Linked DNA regions of Homo sapiens: regions 2, 3 and 4 are each reported to be linked to region 1. Evidence: microRNA targets listed by miRTarBase, many of them from high-throughput screens and not tested one by one. Region 1 holds a microRNA gene; each other region holds the end of a gene's coding sequence. Distances are between the middles of the regions.

Region 1 (3,185 bases):
TGTGGCTCAATTAGAATGTGATCATCACTACTTATACTCAAAAACTTATCGCTGCTACTAGTATAAAATAATAATTCCTCAAATGTGAACACCAGGCCATATCACTGTTTGCTGTTTATGGGGAACTTGACTCTACCCATTTAAGTAAGTGGTGCTTGAGACAATCTGCTAAGGACAAGGGGTCCTGTGATTTTTGCCTGGGACTCTCTTGCCATAATTCAGTCGGTAGATCTAGGCCATTGGAAAAGCCACCAATGTTTGTTTGGGGGATGACAAAAGATTGATGAACAACTTGTGATTACAACTTCTGTATCCTAATCAGAAATTCTCTTGTGTTTTTTTTTTTTTTTTTCTTACAATAAATTTTCTAATCTGAACATGCTGAAAATTTGCCTTTATATTTCCTGGATGGAAATAGTGCACAATCCTTATGCCTCTTTGTGTAACCTCTAGACCCTTCTTGTCTTATCCACTATGAACCAAAGAGCTATTTCTGGGACCCTTTACTCATCCTTCTCTGTTCTCTCTGCTTGGAATTCCATTCCAGGTTCAACACAAATATATCTTTGACATGAAGAGATACCTAATCTTTGCCTTGCCCATTTTAAACCAATAGAATTAAAAATAAATTAATAAAATAAGTTATTCTATCATCAGATATATGTATATCTAGTCTCATAAAATTGTATGTGTGTTTTACAATATTTAGTCCCTGTTTTACTAAAAATATTTGTGGACCCAGCTTGCCTTCCTCATGTCACTAAAAATATATATATTGAGTACCCACTATTCCCCTAAAATATTTACCAAGCACCTTCTAAGAGGCCTTTTAGTAGATATCCAGTAAATATTTTTAAATGAATGAATGTTTAGCTACACCATCCAATACGGTAGCCACTAGCCACATTTAACTACTCAAATTTAAATTAACTGAAATCATATACAATAAAAAATTCATCTTGTACCCCCATTTCAAGTGCTCAGTAGTCACAAATGGCTAGCGACTACAGTATCAGAAAGTGCTGTTATGGGACCCTTCATCACAGCAGAAAGCTCTACTGGGCAGTTCTGAATTCAATACATGAATGAATAAATGCCTGAAAGAATGAATGAACAATCCATCAGGAGGCTCCCAAGCCACCCCCTCTGCAAACTCTCTGACTTCAAGGATGGATTAAACTACATAATATTAACATTTCACCTAATTTAGAGATCAGCTTCCACTTAGGGAAGTGTCACAGCTTGGATTATTTAAAAGGAGCTCAGGAAAGCAGTGAGCACATCCTGCAGGCATGGCTGCTGCTGTTCCACAGACCCATCAGCCACATTATGACAGGAGCGCTTTCCAGCTCCAATTTGTCTAATTCTCATCTGTTATATTAACAAAGAATGCCTGGCCAGAACATGTCACTCAGCTCCACAAAGAGCTATTTCCGTCTTCTGTCTTCTTCCAGAACTGCAAAGATTGATTTTAGGAAGATAATCATTTTTGTGTATTTCTGCACACAGGCTGGCTGCAGCTGTTCCCAAATGCAACATCAATACATGTTTTATGAGTCAGTTTTTTGTGGGGTTTTTTTGGTTTTTGTTTTTTTTTTTTTTTTTTTTTTTTTTGGTAACGTGTGAAGCTAATCATGTTGAGTACGACATAAAAAGCATTTGCCTTGAAATCTCAAGCGCTGTGTCCCATCACTCAATCTTGCTGTGAGCACAGATTTCCTTGAAATGTTTCTGGTCGGGACTGAATGTGTTGAATCTCAATTTTGTATTTCAGCTCCATTCTACGATACAGCAGGGTGAGAACGTGAGTAGCCTTCACAGTTGGGCTTCTGTCTTAGCCTGAGCCATTGAGACAAAAAAACCTAAGACTTTATTTGGGATGTGCAAACCCAGGAAAGAGAGGAAGAAGTGAAGTAAAGGCAAAGAAATCTGGGATGCCAGGTGAAGTGATGCATCACCTTGCTGCTCCTTCCCCACAAGCCTTGAAGTTACAACTGGCAGCCCTAGGCTTGTCCAGGAAAATTACAACGAATATCTCTGTCTTGGGGTAGCACATGGGAGAAACACAGGAGGGGGAATAACCCAGCTAGCTCCTTCCTATTTCCTGTTTCCATTGATCCATTTGCCACTTGGACAGTTAACACCCTCAGAATTCCAGGTTGCACTGGACTCCTGAACAGTAGCTCATGACACTTCCAGTAGTGGATGAAGCACTGTGTGCACAGTTGGCCCTGCACAGAGTGCATCATCCACTACTGGAAGTAGACAAGTGTCTCCTTGAAGATGGGCTTGGTGTGCAGGGCTTGTGAGCCAGGCAGGCTGGGGACTTCCAGCCATCTCGTGGACGTCCCATCAGAGGTTGTTGGTAAGCAGGTCTGGGAGGCAGGCTGTGCTTTAGAGGGAAGGAGACAGTCAGATAGTGAAGGGAACCCAAAGGGGCACAGGATTTCTTCATCCAGTACAGCTTCTCTGCTCGCATGCTTACAGGATTCATCTTCCGTGGCAGGAATTGTTATTTTTAAAAGGAAAATTATGTTCCTCTCCAGGCTCTTTAAAGTATGCTATCCTGATAGAAAAGGCCTTACAGGTAAGCAAATCCTAGTCCTCCAATGTTGCATGTATAAAAATTAATATTAAATAATTGGTGTATGATAGACTAGAGATGTTAAATACCTCGCTTACTAGAAGTAAGTGCCCCCTCCAGCCAACCAGGAAAAGGAGCTCAAATGTTCTAATGCTTCTGTTGCCTCTCTGTACAACAGATAAATCATGTTTATGCAGTGATTGGCGAAGGAAATGAGCATGCAGCAGTGACGCCTGATGCTGAAAGGTGTCACTGGGGTTGCTCCTAAGGAGTCTGAGAGCCTCCCAGGAGCTGGGGTCCACTCAAACCTGGAGGCTCTTCATGCAGCATGCTGAGAGCTCTAGATAATCTCCAGGTAGGTGAGGCCCAGGGAATGTGGGGAGAAGAAATAATGGAGAATCTCACTTTCTAGAACCTGGAGTCAGGTGCCTCAGATAACTCCGAGGGTCAGGAAGATGAAGCTCAGTGTGTGCAGGGAAAAGAGGCCTGCATTCAGATGGGGGAAGTGTAGGAGCATTGTGCATTGTGGGGACGGCACCAGGGGACCCCAAAAACTATAAGCTTCAGTAGTTTGAGGACAATTTAATGAAGGGCCAATGGT
Region 2 (3,185 bases), not on the chromosome of region 1:
CACTCCAATAATACATACACAAGATAAAATGTGACTAAATGGAGTTTATTCCATCAAAGCAAGGTTGATTTAATTTTTAAAAATCGATATGTGTTATGTATAATATCACATTATCTCATTAAAAAGCATGTATCTAGCGGCATAACTGTGTGTATTAAGACCTAAAATATAGTATCCTGATACTTTACTACACACTTTAAAGGTGTTAACTTATTTCATCATCCCCACAATTTTCATGAAATAAGAATGATTATTTTCTCTCAGCTGCAAATACATGGCTGAAACACAAAGTAACTGGCTCTAGATCATGTAGCAATTAAGTGACAGAGCTGTGAATCCAGTTTAGATAGGCCTGACTGGAGCACTTCATTATATTGTCTTTCAGGAGTCTATACCTGATCTGGTGGTCTCTGTATTGGGGTTGCTAACCAGTGCAATAAGGTAAGAAAAAAGGTAAAGCAATTGGGAAGAAGCAAGTATTGCCATATTTTCAGCTTACATGACTATGCATATACAAAATCCAGAGGAATCTACAAATTACTAGATTTAAGAAATAAACTTATTGAGTTTACTAAACATCGTAAGACTACACACAAAACTTAACTGTATTTCTGTGTACAACAATAGAAAAGAAAAAATATTTAAAATATATTATTAAAATCACTAAAACCACCAAAACAAGATATACAAGGTTTTTAAACTAAAAATGTCAAAACATAGCAATTAAGTTAAAGAAATTCTAGTTACATGAAGCGATACATGATGAACATTGATTAGAGATTCAGTAGTAAGTTGCCAGTTCTGCATAAGTTGATTGATAGACTCAATGTGGTCCCAGTAGAAACCTCATCAGGATTTTGTAGAAATTGAGAAGCTGTTTCTAATATTTATATGGAAATCTTGACTTTAAGAAGAACAAAGCTGGACTATAGTTACAACTATAAATGTACAATAATTAAGATAGTGTACTGTTTGACACAAGCATCAACAAATAGACTAGAATAGACAGCCCAGAAACAGACACACACACATACAGTTACCTAACTTACAAAAATGCACCACCCTAGTTCAGTGGAGGAAAAATGGTCTTTCCTACATAGTGCTGTCTCAAGTGGATATCTATTCTACCAGGAATAGATAGAATGTTTATTAATAAAACTATTAGAAAAAAATGGAAAAATATCTTCATGATTTCAAAATCATGAAAAATCTCTTCATGGTTTCAAAATCATGAAAAATATCTTATGATTTTGGGATGGGCAAAAATTTCTTAAACATGACACAAAAAGCACTAATTTTGAAAGAAAATATGAATAAATAAGACTTTCTCAAAATTAGGAAATTTTGTTCATCAAAATTCAACATTAGGAGCAAGTCAAAAACTAGCAAAATATTTGTAATACACATTAAAAAGGACATATTCAGAATGTAAAAATAACTTAAAAATCAGTAAGAAAAATATTGGCTAACTAATTTAAACAAAATACAAAAATGTGAACGGGTACTTCACAAAAGAAGATACCCAAGTGCCCAATAAGCATATAAAAAAGTGTTCAACCTTATTACATGTTGGGGAAATACAGATTAAAACCATGGGGAAATATCACTTTACATCCACAGGAATAATGAAAATCAAGAGAACTGAAAACATTGACTTTTTACAAGCACATAGAGCATCTAGGACTGCCACACATTGCCGGTAGGAGCATAAATTCATACAATCACTTAGGAAAACTGGTAATATCTACTAAAGCTGAATACATGCTTTCCTCATCCTCTACCAGTTCCACTCCTGGATAGGTAGTGAAATTAGTGCACCATGTCCACCAAAAGACAAGTCCAGGAATGTTCGTGGGTTCTCTTCCTCATGGCCAAAAATTGGAAGCCACTTAAGTGCCTATTAACAATAGAATGGATGAACTGAGGAATATTAATATAAGGGAACCCTACATGGCAATGAAAAGGATGAAACTTTTGTACACATGACATGAATGAATCTCACAGACTTAATTCTGAGTAAACAAGACATACAACATTACACACAATATGATTCCAACTATACAATGTTTATAAACAGACGAAATTACTGTGCAGTCATGGAGGTCAGAATAGTATTTTCCTAGGAGTTAGTACTAGGAGGAGTTATAACGGGGCTTCTAGGGAGTCAAAAATGTCCCATATCTTAATCTAGAAAGTGAGTATATAGGTATGTATGTGTGTGAGAATTTGTGAAGCTGTTTGCTTGAGATTTGTTATTTATGTTCTTTACATGGTTTAATATCTCATTAGAAAGAAAACAGAGTTCATAGAGAAAGTTACAAAATAGATTTTCTTAATACCTGAAACTTGGTAAAAAGCTGTGGTATTAAACTGTGGTGATGTCATTAGGGGAGCCCTCTACCCAAACAGAAAGGAAGGCTCAACAGAGCACAGGTGTTTGTTGTAAATGGAAAAATAAATCCGTCTTATTTTCATACTGCAGCAAGTTAACACTATCGAAAGCATTACAGATTAATTAAACTAGATAATTAATGTAGGATGCAAAAGATAGGGCCTCATAGTATATATTAAAAATATTATATAATTAGCATGACTACTACTGCTGCTGCTAACTACTACTACTACTATTATTGCTTTGTTGGTGCTGTTAGTGATCATTTTTAGTGATTGCCCACAAAAGGAACAATACTGGATATGAGGAAATTGATATAATTTATCTTTTCAAGCATACTGTGGGCCTGTGGGTTGCAGTAAAAAGACAAGGAGGGCCTGAGTGATATGACCCTTCAGATAGGGAACTCACAGACGGCCAGATGGGAGGTGGAGCAGGGGACGTCATTCCACTGGCCATTTTTCAGTAGCAATACACAATCTTCATCAGAACCAGCATTGTTGGGTTCACCCTCGTTCCAGTTTGTGTAGGTCAGTCTATTTCCTGTCAGATCCACAAACTGCCCTTCTGTCTTCTCATCAGTGATGCCCAGGAAGGCTTCCTCCTTGATGAGATTCTGAATGGCTCCATTCTCTGCAGCATTCCTGGGGGTGGCCACAGAGGCCTGGAACTTGACACACAAGGCCTTCACTTTTTCAAAGGTCATTATTTCACCATTGGTCAGGAAGAACTTGTTCCCAACTTGTTTGCCCAGAGAGAAGGTGAGCCCTAAAATGTGAAAAAGTGGGTGAAA
Region 3 (3,178 bases), not on the chromosome of region 1:
AGCTACTTTGGAGGCTGAGGCAGGAGAATCGCTTGAACCCGGGAGGCGGAAGTTGCAGTGAGCTGAGATCACGCCACTGCACTCCAGCCTGGGTGACAGAACGAGACTCTGTTTCAAAAAAAAAAAGGAAAAAAAAAAAGGAAGTAACAGATGAAAAGCAAAAGGTTATAACAAAAATTTACAGAAAATCTAGATAAATTTTAATGTATAATAACTTATCTATTTTAAATGATTCAAGCTACACAATTAGATAAATTAGAAATTTGCAATTACATTTTTTAGAGATCATTCCCATTGCAATACCTACATTTTAAGTACAAATAAATGTTTTATGTGTATTTTCCCTTCCTGTATCATCTACTGTTTTCACTTGTATCTATAAAGTTCATAAATTATTTAGCACTTCCTCCTTTCTGTATAAAATAATCATGTGGGATTTAGAAAGTATTAAACTCAGAAAAGGACAGCTTGGCATTACCATTGCCATTTTTCTGCTACATATTAACAAAAAGCAAAGTTTAGAGCAATGTTTTTATAATGTAACATCCTCGGACATTCTTATTTTATTTGCTGAGTCTCATGGAGAGACTAAATATAATTTCTTTAAAGGAAAGGAAAATTTTTGGATATGCCAATTAGTCCCATTGCAGTTTCAGGAAAAAGTATTAGCTCATATGTAGTCTTCAACAATATCCCTTATTATATTCAAACTATTTAAATATTAAATATCTTGATTTCACAGGGATATCTTAATCAGAGTCCATTTTAGTTTCTTGGGAAATAATGAAATTTGTGGGCTCTCACAAGGTGACAGCCTACAGAGGATATACATTTTATACTTCTTTAAAATTTTTTATAACTTGTCATTATATTGTTTACACACAGCATGACTTCTACATGTAAGACTGATCGTTTTACATTACTGTTACAGATTAACATAAAGGTGGAACAAAAATGCTTTAAAAACCATATTTTCATTTTAAGAAACAATAACCATTTTTTTTAAGAAAAGACATTTAGTTACTACCTTTAAAGTTCAAGTCCCAACATCTTAATATATAAACACACCTGGATACGAGATTTAAAAAACCACACAAACACACAAGCTCTAGGTAGAGCTGTAATAAACAAATTCCTTTTATAAACAAAATTTTAACTGAAAAGCCACAGCAGATGGGGGGAAAAAAAAAAGAAAGGATATTACTTGGTAAAATCCAGTGACATCTACAATAGTTTTACAGCACATTTAAGCATTCTAGGGTTTTATATCTTCACCTGCCTTCCATTTCTTAGTTGATCCTTATAAAATCTCTCATTACGAACATAGGTTTGACCTCAAAACTAGTCATGAATTTGAGTGCCAGGAAAAGCAGAACAACAGTCCAAATTTCTATCTTAATATCATAGCCTTAATTCAAAAATGGTTTTGTGTAAAACACAACGCCCAACTAAATGGAAAAAAAAAAAAACACACAAGCAGCAATATGTAATTATACAAAATAGTGATTAATTATATATGAAGTGTTTTTTAGGATGACATCTAGAACGCACCTTGCTCTGAGACTCCTCAATAATCAAATTGACTTAGACCAACAATACTGCTAAGTATTAAAAGCAGTGAAGCAAAGAAAACGCATCAAATAGTACATGCACATCTTACAGAACTTCCACTGAACTCCCCAATGGCTTCTATGCAATGTGCCTCTTTTCCATAACTGTATTAACAACTACCAAGAAAGGAAAGATGAGATTAAAAGTAATGATACTGAACTGAATTGTTTGAAGCCAGTGCCCCATATGTGGGGAAAAGTGCATTTAGTTCAGCAGCAATACAGCACAGTGTGAAGATATTGTGCTTAGACACAGATATTCCAGAATTGAAAGATGTACAAGGCAAGTCAAGATATAAAACCATAGTACACTGTTAAATAACCTTGAAACATACATACATTGCAGTTTTCAAAGAAAGACATTCATGTCATTGTACAAGGATAGGAAGAAATCCTTAAAGTTACCTACTGTAGTTTATGATATAATAAATACATATCTATATAGCATTGTATATACATATATAGATTGTGTGTGTTTATATGTAATTTATTTGCCCAATTATCCTGTTAGTTTTGTGGATCTGCAACTTTCAGGAATGAAAAAACTCCTTTTCACTGCAAGTTTCTCTTCCCCCAAACTTAAAAAATATTCATACTAGAAAAGGTCTCAATACCCTTCCCCTACCCAAAGACTCACTTCAGGTATTTTGCTTCACAACTCGTCAGAGAAGCAAAATTAAAGAAATTCTAGATTTTTGACTGTATCTTTTCACTTTGCCAGTTTTTTTTTTCAACAAGCAAATACCTTTCACTGTTTACACCAGTGGATGCAAATTCTTTAGCAGAGGATTCAAACTCTAGATTTGACTGAATAAAACAGAGCAAATCAAAACAAACAAAAGAAATCCAGTGATTTACTCTGACTGTAAACAATACATAAAATTTAAATCTCAAATCTCAAAATAAGTTAAAGAAAAATTCTACTTTCAGGGCCTACAATACTATAAGGATAAAACAATTGGTAAGGGGAAAATATATATGAAAAGTTGCAACAAAAATTTTTGCCCATTATTTTTCCTAAGAGAAAGTATATCTAACTATACTACCTCTGTCCCTTAAATTTAATAACTTCATAATGTGTTGGCAAATGTTTTAAGCAAACTGGCATATCAGATTACACAACAGAAAAACATCCATCAAATTCAGCAAAGAAAACTTATATAAGCCTTTTGTACAGAATTTAAAAAAAATTCTAAATGGCTATGATTCCTCTATTAGCAGAAACACATAATGCAATTTTTATAAATCTGCCATATACCAATATCTACATAAATAGATACAGATATAGATAAGAAACATTAATGGCAGTCTATTTTTGAACAGTGTGTGGGACCAGCAGATTTATATCAGACCATGGCACGATATGGACCCTGCATCTTTAAGAACTGAATGATGAAAGAAGGCCCCCCAGCAACAATCTGAGGTGGAAGGTGACTGAGTGGACAGTTCTCAATACTCATGATTGAAAGCTTGCTGCAGAGTGCCAGCTCAAAGGGAAGGCTATGCAGGTTGGGGTTGTCATTCAAATACAGTTCTTCTAGGTTCTCCAGTGTACCTGTTTAAAAAAA
Region 4 (3,185 bases), 12 Mb from region 1:
AAATATCATTTCATTTTTTCCCCTTTTTCTCCTACCTGACCCTAAGTAATACCCAGTCTTCCCAATACCCCATTCTCTGTAAAATCTTACAAGGATTGAGTTGAATATTATCAACTACTATATTCCTTCACTCAGAAAAAAAAATTTGTAGTCATATGTTTCATCATAAGAATAATATATACTAAATTGCCTGTGTATTTATTTTTATTTGCAGATTCCCACTGGATTCTTCTCTCTGCTGACAGTGAGGGCTTTATCCCGTTAACCTTCACAGCCACACAGGAAATAATCATAAGAGATGGCAGCCTGTCCAGGTCAGATGTCTTCAGAGACTCTTTTTCTCACAGTCCAGGTGCTGTTTCTTCTCTTAAAGTCTTTACAGGCCTTGCTGCCCCCAGTTTAGATACCACTGGCTGTTGTAACCATGTAGATGGCATGGCTTGATATCTGCAGTGTCCTTGCTGTGTAGCTCTTCAGATGAGACCATTACAAACAAGGCCTGCTTGACACTGGACACTCGCCAATGAGACTCCCACTGCACTCAGGCGAAGCGCTTGCCATGGTCGGCTCTCCTGGTTTCCCCCTGTTTCCCCTGAGCTGAGGCTCGCTGCTGTGTAGCAGAGCTCAGTCTTTATTAGATGGCTCCGAAAGTGGTGTTTATGTATTCATGACTGTGTGGTTTTGACTAAGGGCAGAATTCTCAGAACAAAACAATATTATGGTGCCATATGGATGGTGTTTTATGGTTTCTCTGAGGCTTTGTGTCCCTTGTCCAAAGCTGCATTGAAGCTGTCTTAGGAGCACTTAAAAGATACCTTGGCATTGTTATAGGTCTTTTTCTTGGCTTCAAGAGGAGGTTGAGGAGTCTGCTGGGGGGCATGTGCTCTAGCATATTAACCTCAAACCAGCAAGAATTAGCAGAGCTCCAAGGAGGACCAGAGACCCACTGGCTTCTGCTCTCAGGAACAGGAAGTGGCTCTGATGTTGCCTGGACCTCCCAGAATTTAAACCAAACCCTCTTGCTTCCTTAACAAATTCTGGCTGACGAAGGTCCAGGTACTCTTAAAAACTGGCCCTGGGAAAATTTTGAATGAAATTTCAAGGGAATTTGTCCCCTCTGGGTTCCACTTGAGGTTGTGCCGATGCTGCTACCACACTGTCGAGCCCAGGTAAGTCCTACTGCAGGATTTTGTGCTGTGGCCACTCATGAGTGTCCCTGAAATAACTTTTTTTTTTTTTAAATCCAGTTTTGGGATCACGCAACTTTCCTATTTTTCTCCCAGTAGTCAGCTCCCTTAGTTAACTTGTCACTTTAATTTGATATTTTTATTTTCTCTCCTTTTAAGTCTTAGAGACCAGCAGAGAATCTGTGAGAGAAAGTATTTCAGGAAGTTAGAAATTCAACCGAATCTGAGGTAGTCCTAAAAAGTGCCATTTTGTTTCACTTATGGGCTAAAGTACCAGCTTAGTCAGGTAAGAGCCCTGACCCACTTCAGATGGTAACACCACTTCTCACTGCCTTCAGATGGAATCACAGATTTCAGTCACGGCGCATAACAAATTGATCAGTGAGTGGCTAGGCATCTGCAGATAAATTGTTTCAGCCATAGAAGCTCCATTAGCACATATGCTTCCTTTTCCCCCCTTCCTTTAAAATCATCTGGAAAGAAACTATTTTGTGCCCTTGGGGACTCCTGTCTGTCTGTTACAGTTTACCAAGATGGAGCTGGGTTAGGAAAGAAGTGAGGGCCCATTTTGTGGTTCAAGTGCACTAGACAGCTGCTGGGGTAGGAAGCACAGGCAATGTCTGTAATCAGCTGTGGGAGAGCAGTGACTGAGAACAGTCTGAGGCCTGGCTCCACTTGGAAGTATCTGGGGTGCGATGAAATCACAATTATCTTGAAGCCTAAAGAGGGAACTACAAGACTGTTAACTAAGATCAATGTGGGCACCTAAAAGGGTATGTTAAAATCACCATTTCTCAGGTCAAAATACTGTGAATAAGTCTTCAATAAAATCACTAATGGTTATTGTGGCTGTTTTGGATGTTTTGGTAGTATTTTCTTTGCGATTATTGCTGCTATAGAGGAACCGGCAATAATCTTGCAGTTATATATGCATATGTTGTCTGTATTCCTTCTTCTGGTGGACAGTCCAGAATATAAATGGTTCTTTACAACAAATCTGATTCCATGACAACTCTCATACAAGAGATGTTTCCTTGACCTCTGCTATTATTACAGTCACTGGAACAATAGAAAATAATCTCATATTTGCTGGCTTTGGAGGCAGGGAGAAAAGAGCTAAATTCTTCAAAGGATTGTTTAATGTTCTACAGTCATGCACCACCTCGCCTGGCTAATGCTTGTATTTTTAGTAGAGACGGGGTTTCACCATGTTGGCCAGGATAGTCTCGAACTCCTGCCGGCCTCCTCTTTCTTTATACCTTGTGTGTTGGACAAACATTTTAATTTTAAGGAAGCCACACATTTACCTATCTTCCTTTTTATGGAAGTTTTGTCTTCATATTTATGTCTTTAATCAGTATTCTGCTGGATAATTTTATTTGTTTGGGGGGTTTTTGTTGTTGTTGTTGTTGTTTTTTGAGACGGAGTCTTACTCTGTCGCCCAGGCTGGAGTGCATTGGCACAATCTTGGCTCACTGCAACCTCCAACTCCCGGGTTCAAACCATTCTCCTGTCTCAGCCTCCTGGGTAGCTCGGATTACAGGTGCCCGCCACCACACCCATCTAATTTTTGTATTTTTAGTAGAGATGGGGTTTCACCATATTGGCCAGGCTGGTCTCAAACTCCTGATCTCAAGTGATCTGCCTACCTCAGCCTCCCAAGTGCTGGGATTACAGGCATGAGCCACTGAGCCCAGCCTCTGCTGGATAATTGAGGGGTCCCTCTGCAGAGTTCCTGACTTCATGCTCTGCATTGCTCTGTGTGGTAAATTTCATTTGCCAGGTTTTTTGTGTTCTTTTTTTGAGACAGAGTCTCTCTCTGTCGCCCAGGCTGGAGTGCAGTGGTGTGATCTTGGCTCACTGCAACCTCTGCCGCCTGGGTTCAGGCGATTCTCCTGCCTCAGCCTCCTGAGTAGCTGGGATTACAGGCGCCTGCCACTGTGCCTGGCTAATTTTTGTAGTTTTAGTAGAGATGGGGTTTCACCATCTTGGCCATGC

What was found. The annotated mature microRNA hsa-miR-3681-3p reads ACACAGUGCUUCAUCCACUACU and lies in region 1 at 2,198-2,219, opposite strand. An mRNA with a match to its seed (bases 2 to 7 or 8) in the 3' UTR can be bound and repressed. Matches are read on the target gene's strand: a 7mer-m8 pairs with bases 2 to 8, a 7mer-A1 pairs with bases 2 to 7 and ends in A, and an 8mer does both.
Region 2: miRTarBase lists MBL2 as a target of hsa-miR-3681-3p. The part of its 3' UTR that is shown has no 7-base or 8-base seed match.
Region 3: the mRNA of SHOC2 is a reported target of hsa-miR-3681-3p. Seed matches in the 3' UTR shown: 7mer-m8 at 1,836-1,842.
Region 4: the mRNA of WDCP is a reported target of hsa-miR-3681-3p. Seed matches in the 3' UTR shown: 7mer-A1 at 1,994-2,000.

What each region holds. Positions count from the first base shown.
Region 1 is chr2:12,198,208-12,201,392 of GRCh38, reverse strand. It overlaps MIR3681 (microRNA 3681), which reads right to left and starts at 2,263; the gene lies at 2,192-2,263. All of the region lies in intron 3 of MIR3681HG (MIR3681 host gene), which reads right to left.
Region 2 is chr10:52,765,351-52,768,535 of GRCh38, forward strand. MBL2 (mannose binding lectin 2) reads right to left here. Exons shown (of 5, transcript NM_001378373.1): 5 at 30-3,160. The coding sequence ends at 2,787. Among named protein-coding and RNA genes, the nearest start is that of MBL2, 5.8 kb to the right of the region's middle.
Region 3 is chr10:111,011,597-111,014,774 of GRCh38, reverse strand. It overlaps SHOC2 (SHOC2 leucine rich repeat scaffold protein), which reads right to left. Exons shown (of 9, transcript NM_007373.4): 9 at 1,110-3,165. The coding sequence ends at 2,957. Among named protein-coding and RNA genes, the nearest start is that of MIR548E, 24 kb to the right of the region's middle.
Region 4 is chr2:24,028,192-24,031,376 of GRCh38, reverse strand. WDCP (WD repeat and coiled coil containing) reads left to right here. Exons shown (of 4, transcript NM_025203.3): 4 at 215-2,030. The coding sequence ends at 444. Among named protein-coding and RNA genes, the nearest start is that of WDCP, 18 kb to the left of the region's middle.